4 separate regions of the Homo sapiens genome follow, and regions 1, 2 and 3 are each reported to be linked to region 4. The links are microRNA targets in miRTarBase. Many come from high-throughput screens and were not tested one by one. Region 4 holds a microRNA gene; each other region holds the end of a gene's coding sequence.
The links. Region 4 holds the annotated microRNA hsa-miR-5579-3p (UUAGCUUAAGGAGUACCAGAUC, at 3,016-3,037, opposite strand). A microRNA usually pairs through its seed, bases 2 to 8, with sites in the 3' UTR of a target mRNA and lowers its output. Matches are read on the target gene's strand: a 7mer-m8 pairs with bases 2 to 8, a 7mer-A1 pairs with bases 2 to 7 and ends in A, and an 8mer does both.

Region 1 (4,167 bases), not on the chromosome of region 4:
ACATATTTAAGTCACATGCTAAGCACTACACTAAATTCTGAGAATACAACGAGGTCCCTAGTTACAAAGAACTTGTCTTCATTTTTCAATTAGTAATATGTGGATAAAAGTTACCCAATGGACAGTCTAAGGCAGAATGACTGTGAAGGTCAAATAAGACTGTGAAAGAGCTTCAAAAATTGTAAAACACTACACAAATATTCGTTTGTCCAAACATTTATTGAAATGCCAGGCATTGTGCTAAGCACTAGAGATATAACAGTGAACAAGGCTTATATGGTCCCTGCCCTTACAAAGCTTACAGTCTAGCAGTGATCAATAAGCAGTAACAATAAAGTGTGCCAAGTGTATGTCTGGGAAAGAACAGGGTGTATAGGGAATGGATAGTAAGGGCACCTAATCTAGAGGGCATCAATGAAGGTTTCCTAGATGAAGTGGCATACTGAGACCTTAAAGATGAAGATAAATTTGTATTGTACCCTAAGAGCAATGGTGAAAGCAATGCAGTGACATGATCAGTAAGTCTTTTGGAGCAATTTGGTTGTAGTGTAGAAAGGAATAAAAATAAAAAACAGGGAGACTAATAAGGAGGCTGTTGCTATAATTTAGGTAGGTTGATGGCCTGAATTAAAATGGCAGCATTGGAGAATTGGTAAAAAGGACAAATGAATGGTTGGTAGTGGTAATGCCATTTAGTCAAAGAGGAAACATGAGAGGAGGAGCAGGATTGGGGGCAAGATCAATGACATGTAGTGCCTGAGACAGCAAAGAGCATTTGTTAGCAATTAGATACATCAATTAGGGAAGATCTAGAAAGGAGATATGAATCTGACAGTCATTTGCATATAAATGGTAAGGAAACCATGGAAGGAAATGAGATCAGCTAGCGAGCTGACACAGAACAAGGCAGTCTAAAACAAATTTTTTTAAAAATACGAAGAACAGATATTGAAGGGAAGAGGTGCCTGCAAAGACTAAGAAAGCACACCTGGAGATGGTATCTCCTCAAAGCTAAAGTCATCAAGTGTTCAAGTGTTTCAAGGAGGGTAAGACTATTAACAAGGACTTAGCATAGTAGAGCAATTTGAGTGGCAATACGGGACACTGGGAATACAAATCTGTCAAGAAAACTAGTAGGAATGAGCTATAGGACAGTAACTGGTAAGGACCTAATAATTTTTTTTTTAATGTACGTATTTTAACTATATTCACTGCTACAACAGGACCAGTAACAACTATATTTATTTAAAAAAAAAAAGACTGCCATGCAGTTACAGAATTACTTAATACAGAAAACAGTAAAATACACTTTTTTCTTTTTCTTTTTTTTTTTTTTTTTTTACAAACAAGACTAGCTTATAGCAAATTCTCTATAGCTAAGGGTCAATTTAAAATCCTTGGCTTATATCTCCCCCTCACTCAATGACTACATGATGCAAACTAATTTTATTAACACCTTAAGCAAAACATACTGGAATTTCACAAAATGTACAAGATTTCAATATTTAAGGAACTGGGGTTAGAAAGCAGAAGTGGCTTTCAGGTCTTCCAGTCTTTCTCTCAAGTAATAAAGCTCTGCTGTGAATATTCAAAGCTATTGGGAAATTACCGGTAGATTTTTCTGTTTTTTTTTTTCGGTTTTCCACTATGTTGTTTCTCTAGATATGTAAGCTTACTCTATTAACCAAAATCTCAGCTTGACCATTCTTGATAAGTACCTAATCGACATGTAACTTTTTTTCTGCCTTAAATATGTATAACAGGACAGAGCCCTTAAATCTGATTCAATTATTAATTCCTGATTTACAAGTGCTATGGTGAGCTAACAGAACTTATCAATGCCTTTATTGCACTTTACTAGCCAAATTTAGAAGGTTGGAATTAGTCTCTCCTATCTAGTATTCTGTCAGTTTGCCCAGCTTGTACTTTTAATTTTGCTTCTAATGGTAATCTGCCCTATCCCTTGAAATAAAATAATCTACATTTTGGGAGGGCTAATTCTTCATTGTGCCAGGCTGTCCCATGCACTGCAGGGGTGAGTGTCTTTAGGCTTAAATGCCAACAGAAGCCCCTAGTAAATATGACAACCAAAAAAGTGCCCCTACACATTTCTCAGCATCCTCTGGAATGACAGGTTACTGCCTCTAGTTGAAAGCCACTGGCACAACTTTGGTTTTTAAGCTCTTATGCCATTTATTTTAATTGCCCAGACATCAATTCCACCTAAATTCTTAGTCATAGCCTGGTTCCTTGAATTTGCTGGATTAGTAACCACAGATTAAGGTGTTTCAATAGTTAAGACAGGACTTTGGAACAAGAGTTTTTAAATTGTATAATACTTGAGAGGATCTATGAATATAAATTGGGTCCTGTTTATAATTAGTTTTACATAATGAACTTTAAGATTGCCTTTTCATGGTGAACAGAAGTTTGGAAATTACTGTTTTGGCACAAAGCAGATTATCTTAGTAGAAATACAGAATTACTGCAATCTGTGAATAAGACTGCTTTTAAATATTTCTACTTGTGTGCTATCTTACATATAGAATGTGTACGACAGTTCCAAATTTTAGAATAAATCCATTTCTAGCATCTAACAAAATCTGATACTGTATCATTTTAAAACAAAGTGTTTACTTTAGGCAGGATTTTTTAAAATAAAGCAGCAATACCCACGCAGATAAGACAAAAAAGCTAAAATATCTCACACCTCCTAATCCTGGAGTGCAATCTTTTTTCCTCATCGTTTTTGATAGGGCCAAACTTGTGTCTACAGTAAAAAAAAAAAAAAAAAGAATTACTAACTGGCAACCATTAAGATTCTATACTTACCATAGTCCTTTAATAGGCAAGCTGATAAAATAGCCCCCAGTTATTAAAAAAAAAATCCAAGGAAAACCCCCAATAATTAGTCTTATCTCCAAATTGCATGAAGTCTCCTATATCTGAAACTTAAAAATGATTCTAATGACTTCCTCTATCAGTAATGTGTTATCACTGAGGTGGGTGATGGGGAGGGAAGAGGGAAGAAATCTGTCAGTATTACCTTCGAACTCAGAAATGTTTAAAAAAAAGTCTCAAACATTTTGATGGTTAGACAAAACACCTCCACTGTTATGTATGGGCTTCCTTTTTGGAAACTTATGAACTTGCTATGTGAGCTTCTGCAAATTGGTTCAAAAGCACATTTAAGGAGTTGATAATTTAAGACTATATGAATCAGAATTTTAACACTCCATTAAAATAAGAGCTGAAATTTTTGGCATTTATCTTCAGAACACCTAAAAAACAGACTGCAAATTCAACTCACATTAATACTAAATCTCTTTAAAATTAACTATATCATAAAAGACAATGACTTTGTCACTAAACTAAGTTTTAAAAAAGGTGGCATTCTCATGTTTCAGTCCCATGCTGCCATTTGAGATGAAAAAAAAGGCAACTGTCAGAATTTTAATTGTGATCAGTTTGGACGGCTGGTACTTGGTACTTTCTCACAATCCAAATTAGTAAACTTGAAAACTCAAACCAATTTTTGCTTTTAGAATTAAATTCTTGTTGAGTTTTTCAATCTTGTACTACAAAGCCTTATGGATTAGATTCATTTCTTTCTCTCACAAGGTCATCCCAACCGGGCTCCATTTCAGTTGTGGCAACCCGAAACAGGGCTTGGAGATGCTCATCTGTTAATGGCTGACTCAAAGTGTGTTGGTTTCGAGTCAAATATGAAAAAGCCTTTTCACAGATTTGGTTACTATCAAACAAGGATGCCACCTTACAGGCAACCCCTTTGATAATTGGGTAGGATTCAGCAGACAATCCAGCATAAAACTGCCCCAAGTCTTTGATTCTGTATTCATTCCAAAGATTAGTGTTTGCCTGAAGTTTTGTTAGCTCCACCCTCACTGAAATAGGTGCATATTCAGGTTTAAAGTTAAATGGATTTGAAAAAAGTTCTAAGTCCTTTTTAATGAACCTGAGGTCCTTAAAATGTCTCTCAAATTCTTTTTGGAGACGACAGATCACCATTTGATACCTATCAGGATCAAATATTTTTTCATCTTCCTTATTTTGCTGTTTTAGCTCATCAACAACTTCTCTGAGGGCAGGAAAGTCTGTTAGATTTTTTTCCTCAATATGTCTTTGAAATAAATTCAGCTTAACTTC
Region 2 (4,167 bases), not on the chromosome of region 4:
TTAACCATGAGTTAACATTTCCTTTTTCCAAGGAGGATGACACCAGCATCTTGATTCACCGTGCAGTTGAGATGGCCCCTGGCCAGTGGGAATTGAGGCGAGTCACAGAAGTACTTACCAAATACTCACCTGCTGCTTCTAGTTTAATTTAATTTTAGACACACACTCTCACAGTGATGCTAAACTCTTTACAAGATAGACCCGCAGCTTCCTGCCTCTGCCTCTCTCTTAGTTCTATTTGTCCAGGCCTTGCTGATTTCTGGGACTCTCATATGGTCAAGATCTATTTCAGGCATGACCTATCTTATGACAGTTCTAAGATGCTTGGTATTGTCTGTCTGTGGAGTGGCCATGGGGCACAGAACTGTGAAGAGCTTCTGTTGTTTCATTTGATAAGGGCCTGGAAAGTCAGCCTGGGAAAACTCGCACTTGGTGTGGCCTTTTTCTGATAAGATCAAGACTTCACTGGCCCCACCAGCACAAGAAGGGAATGCTGAGGACAGGGCCATTTCCCAAGATAAAACTAGTTTGGGATCGTGTGGCCAAATAAGCTGATGGACTCTGTTTCCGACATTTCAGCTCATTTGCTTAGTGCTAGGTCACTCTACCTCTCGTTTAAAAGAATATAGCTATGCTCACATCTGTGACTCTGAATTTATCAAGCATTTGACTTTCTTTATCAGGAGATGAAGAAACTGTGCTTTGGATCCATCATGATTTTACTTATCCAGCTTACTTTTTACAGTTATTAAAATCTTACTCAATACCTTCTCTCTGGGCCAAACTCAGAAGCAGGCATTGCTGACTAGACAGTGAATTCAACTCAGTCATTCTGAGTTTGACTCTTGCTTCTGCCTTCGTCTCCCACTACCCTGCTTCCCCCACCCCCAATAGTGCTGTGCAAGTCAAAGAAGATAAATAAATACAAAATAAAATAAGATCTCAACACAAATACATCCCCTTTCTGTGCCACCAAAATGCTTTCTGAGCGATTTGTATTCATTCAGGACCAATGAAAAGGAAGCCTCCTACCCTATAGCTGTATAGTTGTGGGGTCCCAACTGCAGACCCTCCCGTGCTCCCTGAGTTGTTCTTGGGACACCTAAGGACCTCACCACACTGTTGCTGAGACATGATGTGCTGCACATATGATAAGAAGGCCAGACAGGCTGAAGCATCTGGAGAAAGATCTCTTTTGAAACAAAAAAAAAAAGGAAGGTAATATTAATATTATTGTTACTTTAATATACCATAATAAATCTAGTCATAAGACACCATAACTAACTCTTAGTCCATAGTCACTTGCATTATATGATAATCCAGTGCTGAAATATAAAGAAATTTCTGAATTAAGTACCCAGAAGTGCCTTCCTTCTGTACTCCTCCCTCTCTTTCAAATGGCTATCATTGATCATATAACACCCCCACCTCCTTGTCTTAATATATTTATCTCTGTAAAACTAGCTCAACCACAGAAGGGACATCTAGAAACAGCAATATTGATTTGGTTTGGCCTGTTTGTTTTTAAGGACTTTCCAGTTGCTGAATTCTGAACATCCAATCCGAGTCCTTGGAATTCTGCAGACTTCTCTGGGGTGGAGTGGCCTCACCGGAGGCTTGGTTCTGTTTTCTCTGTGGCAATTGGCTATGATTCACAGATGTGTTTCCAGAACAGCCCAACTGTGGGTCTCAGGGAAGTAAACTGCCTCTTAGGTCATCCTGCCTGTGCTGTAAATTCGGGGAAGGATTTCTGAGTACAGCAGGATTTCACACTAATTAAAAGGCCTTCGGGATCATTTCAGCCCTCATCCCCCAGGAGGCCAGTTTGGGGCTTTTCCCTACAGTAAAAAAGGACTCTTTCCTCACCAGTTCTCCTTGTTAAACATCTCCAGGGCACAATTTCCAGGGGGACCTGGAAAGGTTCCTTTTGAGGTGGAAATGAATCAACTCATTCCGCCTTTTCAAAGCTTTCTCAGGCTTATAAAGTGTCCTACTGAGAAAGTTCCTCTTCCTCAATGGGCTCTAGGAGACCTCCTGCTTCCTCTCCTCTGATTTGATCAATGGGTTACTTTTTTTCTTCAGAGATCCCTGGAGGCAGGTAGGTCCAGGGATTGCTTGGGTTAGAATTTGTTGATATTTCTATGGAAAGGACCCGTGCTATCCTGCCCTTGCTGAGAAATGAGCCAAGTCCAGGGGCTTTCCAGCACTTGGGAGCCTCACCCTTTACCAGCGAACACTATAGAAGGGGGATTGTTGAAGGTAAGGGCCTGTGGCAAATGGATTTTCTCACCGGGCGTTCACTGGGAGAAGGAGTTGATGAGTGCATTTTTCTTAGTTTCCTCTGCACAGGTCCCCAAGCTCAGGCTGGGTAAGCTTTTTAGGAGATGAAACTTAAGGAGAATGACAAAAGAGTGAAATATTAGCTTAAAAATTTTTCCTTTTTTTTTTCACCTGGCAGTTGAGTCAGATTGTAGGAAAATTAACCCAGATGGGTCTACATTTTTCTTCAAGTTCAAACCACATGGTTTCCTAGTCAGAAAGTCTCATGGACTTTCTTCCTAAGGTGTTCTATGATCAGACCACCTCCTAAATGTGGCTTTTACCCATTACAGGCTACAGTTGAATCAGGCAGGAGCAGCTGCTGGAGAGCACCCAGCCGACAGACCTGCATTCCAGAAGCAGCTTGGAGAAACTGGGAAGACATTTTTGACCCATTCTTGGGTTTTTACTGTAAGGTTAGCAGTTACATGATGCCACCAGTCCAAGACTTAGATCATGAGAGAAGGCCTTTTTAAAAGTTTACCAGGGAACATCGAGGCTCATAAAGAACTCTTTTGTCTTCACCCATCTCTCCTCCTCCCACTCCCATCCACTTTCTCATAGCTCAAAAACCACTCATTGGTAAGCACAGTCAAACCCAGGCCTGTAATCACCTCTGAAACAACTACTCCTAAGCAAGCAAACCCCATGGCTGGTAGACCCCGTGGGTATTTTGGCATCAACACTGCTCCCCTCCCCTCCCATCCCAGTCACTGCAGTTTAGAATTGCATGCCAATTTCCTTTTCTGGCAGGGCCTGGACGGCATGGAAGCCAGGGACAGCATGGGCCAGGTGCGCAGCAGCAGCAGCGCAGCATTCCTGGCACTGCAACAAACTGAGAATGTGTCTCAAGTGACTTTCCAGTCTGGCCCTTAGTGCCCAATAACCAGAGTGTCAGAAGTAGTGAGACTGAAGCTGTGTTTGCCAGACACCCAAGTCCATAGCCAGCTCGGTACTCCTCCATTCACTCTCTCTGTCTCCCCTAATGGGGTAATAGATCTCTTTCTAAGAAGGATGAAGATGGCGTTTGTCCTTGGCCTTGTAGGTATGGACGGAGAGGAGGGTAGAAAAGGAGTTGGTGTTGCATGTTTCTAAAGCATCTGAGAAGGTATTTTGATATTGGCAGAAGAAGCTAGTGGCAATCCCATATGTGGGCTCTCCAACACTGACTGACCCCAAACATGCTGAGCCCAGATCAGGCTGGCCGGCCGAAAGGTGGACTGTGTCTATCATTTCTGCTAGATTCCTATGTGAGGAGGCCAGGGATGGTGCTGACCTTCATGAAAGATAGCAGGCTGGAGTTCCCATGATACCAGCAAGATGAGGCTTGATTATAAAAAGTGCGCCTCAAGGCAGTGATACAGAGGAGTCTATGAAGCTGGAGTCTTAGGGGAGTGGTTGAGTCCTTCTGCAGCGGGGATGGGGCAAAATGGCTGTGCTCAGGATCGGCTGAGGCGTTTGGCGACATCAGCGTAGGCCAACTCGATCTCACTGTCAGCTGCACAGGTGTTGGTGAACTCATCACGGGCATAGGCGTTCTTGAGGTACCGCCACAGGCCTGTCATCTCAGCCGGGATATCATAGTTGCGGTATTTCTTGGCCACAATCTAAAACAGAGATGGCAGGACAGAGGTGGTGTGAAGGCATGAAACAAATCATTAGAAAGTGTTAGTGGCCGTCCCAGTGTGTGTGCACTGCAGGAAACCTCCGTGCATCACCACGGGCCATCAGTGATATGTTTGAAATGCAAGGTGGCAGTGCTGTCTTCTTTTTGTTTTGTTTTAATTTAATTTCTTAAGTAAACATAATTTGCCCTTTGACCTAGTGTGTCAAATTCTAGGAATTTTT
Region 3 (4,167 bases), not on the chromosome of region 4:
TGGTTTTTGTTTTACTTATAGAATGTGCTGACATAGAATTTTGAATTCCACTTTGACACATAGGAGGCAAGGAGAAAGTTTTGTTTTTAACATTTTCTTCAGAAGTAGCCATTCAGTGGTACTGCTGGCATTGGTGAAGCCTGTGGGGGAGCCTGAACTTTGCTCCATTTTACAGGTTTATGTGGAACATAGCACTCTGACCAGGATTTGTAATGGTGACTAAAAACTTCTCATTATATCAGATAAAAACTTCAAATTTCAAATCAAGACTGTTTATTATGACAGTAACTAGTTAATCGATAGACAACAAAGTGAAGTAGAAAATTCATTAGCCCCAAAGCAAAAGTCCTGGGTTCTATGACAGGCTTTGTGGAACCTTGGACAAGTCTCGTAACTTTAGTTCCCTACAAAATGAGGGTGTTGCATTGACCCTCATCCTCTAGTTTCTGAAATACTATTGACTCTGAATATTTCTAATTATTTTTCTTTATTGTAGGATTTTAATATAATTGAGGAAGCTCTTATCCGAAGAGTCTTAGACCGGTCACTTCTTGAATATGTGAATCACTCGAACACCACATAATTTTATTAAAACGAAGGGAAAAGGGACCACTGAATTGCACCATTTAAGATGCTGCTTGAACAAATGGGAGGGAAGTTGTCAATGATTGATGGGCAAAAATGTACAACACAGTTATGTGTTTGTCCATGTTTATTGTTATAGTGCATTTAAAAACTGCTTTAATTTTAATGGTTTAAATCTGTTTTACATCCTTGAGATTCTTACACATCTAACAACAAAAAAAATTATCTACATCAGTCATTGTTACATGGAAAAGACAGGTGGTAGGCAAGTAGGTGGAGGATCTCGGTTTGCAAATTAGATAATACTCTGTGTATAATGCTACATATCAATAACTACCATCATGGTTAGGCACGATAACTAATCTTTGTTCTGTGTAAAAAAATATGGAGAGTGAAACAAAGTGCAGACATTCAAAGAAATAAGAAATCTGCTCCAATGCTCTTGTTCTAATCTCTAATAGGTTAACGTTAATAATCTTGTATGGGAGTTGGAAAGGAAAATTTTGGAAGTCAAGAAAGTCCATTTAGGCCGGACGCGGTGGCTTACGCTTGTAATCCCAGCACTTTGGGAGGCTGAAGCAGGCGGATCACAAGGTCAGGAGTTCGAGACCAGCCTGGCCAACACTGGTCTCTGTGAAACTCCGTCTCTACTAAAAATACAAAAATTAGCTGGACGTGTTGGCGGGCATCTGTAATACCAGCTACTTGGGAGGCTGAGGCAGAAGAATCACTTGAACCCGGGAGGCAGAGGTTACAGTGAGCTGAGATCGCACCAGTACACTCCAGCCTGGGTAACAGAGCTAGACTCCATCTCAAAAAAAAAAAAAAAAAAAATCCATTTAACCAAATTGTCTTACATAATACTGTAACAAAACAAATTTTGTGTTAGAAAAGTATACTTAATTCTTTGACTTTTTATAACTGCATACATAAGAATTCAATATTTTTCAAATATTTATAGCTTATTTAGAAATATTTCTATAATATAAGCAATTTCTTAAAAACCATCAGATGATACTTACAGTATAAGTATTCACATCCAGACTTTTTAGTAGAAAACCCTAAGGGCTTTGATATCTTTTTTGATTGTAACATTTTAAAAATTATGAAATAAAAGTACTGAAAACCAGACACAAAATTTATAGCTGAATGCCTTATTATAAGGAAATACTCTTTTAGGACTCAGCCAGTCACCCCACGTGTCCTTTTTGTGTCCTGTCACAATTACAACCCCACAAAAGTAACTGCTAGACTGATTTAAATGGTAATCACTTTGTTGCATTTGATTACTGCTGCCACACCTAAATGCATATATCTATATTTTAATATTATCAATTTAAAGTTGTTATTAAATGTATATTTTATTTTACATCTCTTTTTTAATCTAGAAGTTCCTCCTTCTTTCCAGTTCCTTAAAATTTACCTGGTGAAGAACCTGATCCTAGGACCTATAGAGTTTCCCATACTTTGTATTTTGCTGATTGCACACTCATGGCACGGTTCAGCACATTGCCCTGTCCTCTCGATATTAGCACACAGTGCAGGTTCAGGCACATTGAATTTGAGAAGACTTAGGTTCAGTCCTTTGGCAAGACTGTAAATCACGGTGTCTTTCTTTCCTTCCTCCTTCTTCTCTCTCTCTCTCTCTCTCTCTTTCCTTTTCTTTCTCTTTTTTTCAGAGTTGCACTCTGTTGCCCAGGCTGGAGTACAGTGGCACGATCTCGACTCACTGCAACCTCCATCTCCCGGGTTCAAGCAGTTCTCCTGTTTCAGCCTCCCAAGTAGCTGGGACTACAGGTGCACGCCACCATGCCCGGCTAATTTTTGTATTTTTAGTAGAGGGGTTTCACCATAATGGTCAGGCTGGTCTTGAACTCCTGAACTCAAGTGATCCACCAGCCTTGGCCTCCCAAAATGCTGGGATTACAGGCATGAGCCACCATGCCCAGCTAATTTTTGTATTTTTAGTAGAGACAGGGTTTCACCATAATAGCCAGGCTGGTCTCAAACTCCTTACCTTGTGATCCGCCCACCTCAGCCTTCCAAAGTGCTGGGATTATAGGCGTGAGCCACTGTGCCCGGCCTACAGGGTTTTTATCTAACCTTTCTGTTACAACTGTACCTCTCCTTCTGTACTGAAAGTCCTGGTTTTCAAGAACACAGGGCACGATAGAATTAGAACATCCCACAATTACTCATTTCTTTTATTTATCTTACACTTACAGCTGTCTCAGAATAACAATAGAAATACAACCACAAATAATATGGCAATTGAAACAATTAAAAAGTTTTCATTTGCTTTTCTCATTCTTTCCCAATTTTTTTTTTTTTTTGAGATGGAGTCTCGCGCTCTTGTTGCCCAGGCTGGAGTGCAATGGCACGATCTCGGCTCACTGCAACCTCTGCCTCCTGGATTCAAGCAATTCTCCTGCCTCAGCTTCCCGAGTAGCTGGGATTATAGGCATGCGCCACCACGCCCTGCTAATTTTGTATTTTTAGTAGAGTCAGGATTTCTCCACATTGGTCAGGCTGGCCTCAAACTCTCGACCTCAGGTGATCCGCCTGCCTCGGCCTCCCAAAGTGCTGGGATTACAGGTGTGAGCCACTGCGCCCGACATCCCAATTTTTAAAATAGTTATACTATGTCAACATTTTCAGAACATACTGGTATAGCATACTGTACTTTCTTCCTTTTATCCCCCATTTATTCTTAGTTCTTCAACTATATATTTAACACTTGCCCCCAGTTTTGTTTTGTTTTGTTTTGAGGAGGAATCTTGCTCTGTTGCCCAGGCTGGAGTGCAGTGGTGTGATCTTGGCTCACTGCAACCTCCGCCTCCCGGGTTCAAGTGATTCTCCTGCCTCAGCCTCTCGAGTAGCTGGGATTACAAGTGGGCACCACCACACCCGGCTAATTGTTGTATTTTTAGTAGAGATGGGTTTTGCCATGTTGGCCAGGCTGGTTTTGAACTCCTGACCTCAAGTGATCCACCTGTGTTGGCCTCCTAAAGTACTGGGATTACAGGTGTGTGCCACCGCGCCAGGCAATTGCCCCCAGTTTTTATTTGATGGCTCTGACTGTTTCTCATATCTGACTCTTTAATTATGAATCCAGGGCATAGATTAGTATCTCCATCTTGTAAGGATGCAAAGAAGCCATGAAAATAAGTAATATCAACTCCTGAGGATAAAACGTTACTTGACTAGAGTTAGCTTTTTAATTGTAATCATTTATAAACTTCTTTGTTCCTTACATATAAGCATAGTCATAACCATGGTACCCAAAATTTTCTATAAGTTATTGTAACTCCTTAAAGGTCTTGCTACAGTTCTTTTATCCAGTACAAATAATTGGGAAAATGTAAAGCTGAATGAAATCTAGTGAGCCTCATATCCTCCCTTTTAGATATTGATTTTAAGTTTGCTTTTCACAGCTGCTAAAAAGTAACAACTGATTTTTAGTTCCACAACCTCTCTTTCTTCAATTTAGATGGATCATACAATAAAGCAAAATCTGGCTGGTTACAGTGGCTCACACCTATAATCCCAGCACTTTGGGAGGCTGAGGTGGAGGGTCTCATG
Region 4 (4,167 bases):
TGGTGAAGGAGATGAAAAGCCTACCTGGCTTTTCAAAAACACATGGAAGGATCAAAAACCACTCCCAGCAAGTCATGGCAATGTTGAATCAAGAACTGAGGGCACCTCCCTCTACCCGCTGAGTCAGTGGCCTTTGTCTGCTTTGTGACTCACCTCACTGCTTATAAACCACCAGAGCACTTGGGAACAGGGCAGTCGAGCTGTTCACACCCACAGGTAAGAGGTCAGCTCCCTTCCTCCATGTTCCCAATGGCACCCTTAGCACCCACGGCACGGGGATGGATGTGTTCCCTCCTGACTCATCAGAAGGTAACTGGGTGGCTACCTTGCTCTGTCTAGTAAGTCAGGGATGGATAGTGGATGAGATGGTTAAATTAGATTGGCAAAAAGGAAACTCACATTCTGGACTTGACAGTGTGATATGTACTTTGTATGGGCTCAAATCCCACTATGAGGCCAGTTACCAGCCATGGGTCACGTTGCTTGACATTTCCTAGTTTCATTTCCTCAGCTTTAATGAAGATAACACCCATAACCTGGTTGGTTGTAAGGAGGTAAAGAGATTAGGTCTGCTACACAGTAGGGGTGCAAAGCATGTCAGACATCATCCACATCTCCACTCCTTGGCCTGACGTCCCATGAACTGGCTTCGTGGGTTGGCACAAACTCCTTCCCTTCTCTGGGCCTTCAGTTTCCCCAGCTACCTAGGTGAGCCAAATTATTCCTTAGTTCCTTCAAGATACAAGGTGGGTGCGGGGAGGGAGTTTGAGTATGAGACTTCCTATGTGATATTTTATGTGTATGTGCATGTGTGTGTGAGTGAGAGAGAGAATGAATGAATGAGAAACCATTTATTTTAAAGTTCCCTTAATGGAATAAGACAGATTTAAATATTTTGAATCCAACCCACTGTGTTCTCTTTGTTCCATATATGTATTTTAAAAGCTTATCTTTGTCTTTTAGCTCCTTCAAGGATGCAAATCCTTCCCAATCTATGGTAAAGGTTTTCTCCCTCCTGATCATTTGAAATACATTTTTTTAACATGTTAAATCCTTACTCTTTGTATTTAAATACTTTGATGTTTTCCATAAAATAGGTTGGGAAGGGTTAGAACAAAAACGCATTTCATTTATCTGAACTACTAAGATGTCAGAAAGAGAGGCAGCTTGCAGCCTCCCAAGAGGGAAACACTCAGCCCCTGCAGGACTCTCCAAGCTTCCTGCTTGGACCATATCACTAAGACAGGAACCATAATCAGAACCCTACAGATTCAGAAATCCACAAAGTTAGCACTTCCCAAAGAGCTTCTGAAGAAACCCTACTCTTGTGAGAGTGCTAAAAATGGTTTTGCTTTAGAAAAAAGAAAACTCATATTAGAAGTTTGGGAACTCTTATGTGCTATTTATGCCTCTCTTGGAGATTCGCATAAGCATAGTGAAGACTCTGAGACTTTCTGCAGCATGAAAATACATTAACCTCTCTAATTTGGCATTTATCAAACTTATTTGGACACAAACCAGTTTTTTTTTGGGGGGTGGGGGATGGTTATTTGCTCCTATGGTGAAAAGGAAAAAAGAAAAAACTATTACCCCTCCACATGCTCACACATCCACACAATACGGAAAAAATATTTGAAACCTAGTCCCTGGAGCTGGGATGGGACAGAGGTAGGAGCAGTCACTCCAGAGTCAGATAAACCCAGGTTCAATGCTAATTCCACCAGCAGTGTAGCCTCAGGGATGATACTTCAACTTCCAGAAGTTTCCAAAGCTTTCCAAACCTTCCAAAGCTTTCACTTAGCTTTGCTGTAAGTGAAAACCAGGCTTCTAGAGTGCTTGTGTGTGCATTAGATGAGTCGAGGAGTGCACAAAGGTATCTGGTAGGGAGTATTTTTTAAATGTGTAAACTATTTTTTAAACGTGACTCTCCCTACTCTCCCTTTGCTTTTCTCTTTGCAAAATCACAAGTAGAGGCATTCGAAAGCACACTGGTCAATTTTTGCAATGCTTATAAAGCTTTAAATCAAATTATTTCACATAAGAGGCTATCTTGGAATATCATTCCATTACCTTGTCTATATGTTTTCATAAATAAAGTCACCCCCCCTCAAAAAAAAGGTAGGGCCACTTTCATCCATATGTATGTGAAGGAGAACCTAGTATTTCATACAGCTATCTGAAATTTAATATCAAGGAATTTACCTGTGTCAAATATTACTTTATTTAACAGAATGTGATATCGCTTGATATAGTCATAAAGTGCATTCCTATCAAAATACAGCTGTTATTAACATTACTAACAACTGCTTTACCCCAGTGATTTTTATTGAAACTATAACGATGGGCACTTTTGAAATAAGTGTTCCTAGCTAATTTGCAGAGGGCTATCTCCCAGAGAGAGTTCATATTATAATTCTAACGGGGTTTTCACACAAGGTAGAATGAGGAGTTTAAAATGCTTGAAAGAGAGTCATCTCGAGGTCACCAATAATTAAATAGGAGCTAAAGGAACGGAACAAGGAAAATGTGTAATCTTCCCTGGCTCTGAAATTAAAAAAAAAAAAAAACAGTTATCAGCAAGACAGTGCTTCTGCAGGGAGGCTGATCTCGATCTACAGTAGGATTCCTTTCAAACCAGGATGTCTATTTCAAAATGCCCATTAAAAGTCTATGATGGACTTTAATTATGAGAGGCAGCAGATAAGAGTCCAGTTCATTCCCTCCTGTTGTCGGGGTGGTTTAGAGCTGCCAATCATCACCCCCTTCAATGAGGCCCAAGGTGCAGATACCCCTTTCAAGAGGCTGGCTAGACTGTGAGGGAAGGGCTCTTAACGCACACCCCACACGTGGCGCCTGTGAAGTGCAATGAAGGGACCTCCTGCTAGGGCTGCAACAATCTTCCCATTCCCCCAGGATGCAATAACCAAGGGAACCACATCCCTGCTTCTCAGTGCTCAACCTTCTGAGGCTCATCTTCTCAACTCTGTTCACCTCCACAGTGTTTGTGGGTGATTTGATCTGGTACTCCTTAAGCTAATGGTGACAGGGGCCTGTTAGCTTAAGGAGTACCATATTAAATCACCCACATGGTTCTTACACACACACACACACACACACACACACACACACAGAGTAAAGGACAGAGCAGCAGCAGTCCAGCTCAGTAGAAGCAGCACCAGCTCTACAGTAAGAAAGACCAGAGTTTGAATCCTGATTCCTTCACTTCCTGCTGTGTGGTCTTGGGCAATTTACTTACCATCTCTTTTTGTAACATGGAGACTAGATACCTGTCATCTATAATACCTGTCACCTATGTTTAATATGGGGCCCCTAATTCATAATAGGATACCTAAGAATGTCATTCCCCAAAAAAAGCAGAGGCCCTGCAGTCAATGTTTGTCTGCCTCCATGAGTGCCTAAAAAACAACTCCCTCCACCCCAAGAGAGAAACTCGCTGGAGAGGCCAGCTGAGAAAGAAAAATGTTAAATAATTCAGAAGCACTAACATCAAGTCTGAGGTAGGTATAAAAATAGTTACAAAACACCACACTCCTCTTGTTTTCCTTACAGCAACCTTGGCTCCCTGGTAGAACAGAGGGAGGGAGGGTCTGACCCAAGGCTGGTTCTGGGCCTGGGGCAGGGACTGTGGCCCAGGAGCCTCTCTGGGCTTCTATTTTGGCTCTTCTAATCACTCCTCTTTGTACAAAGGTAAGGCAGGCATTTGCTTGTCACCTCTACATTTTAAAACAGCCTTCTGATAGGCCGACTTATTTTTAAACTGAAAGTATGCTCAGCTGGGCCATTTGAATCAGAGGGAATTCTTTGCATCCTGTCTTCTAAAGTAGACCAACTGGTGAGCCTTCCAAGGATGCCGGACCCAATCCCAAAGCTTAAGTTAAAAGGAGAAGGCTGGGAGGCTGTCCTAAACCCAATCCCCCAAGGAGTCCCATGCCATTGGCCTGTGTCATCCAGAAAGACTATGCTGTCCCTAAAAGCACAGATACTGGGAAGAGAACAGGAAGATTCCAACTGGAGAGGTAACATTGACTAAGCACCTACCATGTGCCAGGCACCCTGCCAGATCCTTTACCTATATTATCTCCTGAAGCCCTCACAATATATCCCAAATCAGTTGCAACCCCCACCCCCGCCATTGTACAGATGAAG

Region 1: the mRNA of EPM2AIP1 is a reported target of hsa-miR-5579-3p. Seed matches in the 3' UTR shown: 7mer-m8 at 1,353-1,359.
Region 2: the mRNA of CLIC5 is a reported target of hsa-miR-5579-3p. Seed matches in the 3' UTR shown: 8mer at 2,420-2,427.
Region 3: the mRNA of RNF125 is a reported target of hsa-miR-5579-3p. The part of its 3' UTR that is shown has no 7-base or 8-base seed match.

The regions. Positions count from the first base shown.
Region 1 is chr3:36,987,666-36,991,832 of GRCh38, forward strand. EPM2AIP1 (EPM2A interacting protein 1) reads right to left here. Exons shown (of 1, transcript NM_014805.4): 1 at 1-4,167. The coding sequence ends at 3,589. Among named protein-coding and RNA genes, the nearest start is that of EPM2AIP1, 3.4 kb to the right of the region's middle. RefSeq lists a silencer at 3,581-3,630.
Region 2 is chr6:45,899,330-45,903,496 of GRCh38, forward strand. CLIC5 (chloride intracellular channel 5) reads right to left here. Exons shown (of 6, transcript NM_016929.5): 6 at 1-3,926. The coding sequence ends at 3,759. Among named protein-coding and RNA genes, the nearest start is that of CLIC5, 110 kb to the right of the region's middle. RefSeq lists enhancers at 1-91, 1,599-2,287, 1,689-2,888, 2,592-3,436.
Region 3 is chr18:32,067,802-32,071,968 of GRCh38, forward strand. It overlaps RNF125 (ring finger protein 125), which reads left to right. Exons shown (of 6, transcript NM_017831.4): 6 at 497-4,167. The coding sequence ends at 583. Among named protein-coding and RNA genes, the nearest start is that of RNF138, 22 kb to the right of the region's middle.
Region 4 is chr11:79,419,154-79,423,320 of GRCh38, forward strand. It overlaps MIR5579 (microRNA 5579), which reads right to left and starts at 3,073; the gene lies at 3,016-3,073. All of the region lies in intron 1 of TENM4 (teneurin transmembrane protein 4), which reads right to left. RefSeq lists an enhancer at 1-590.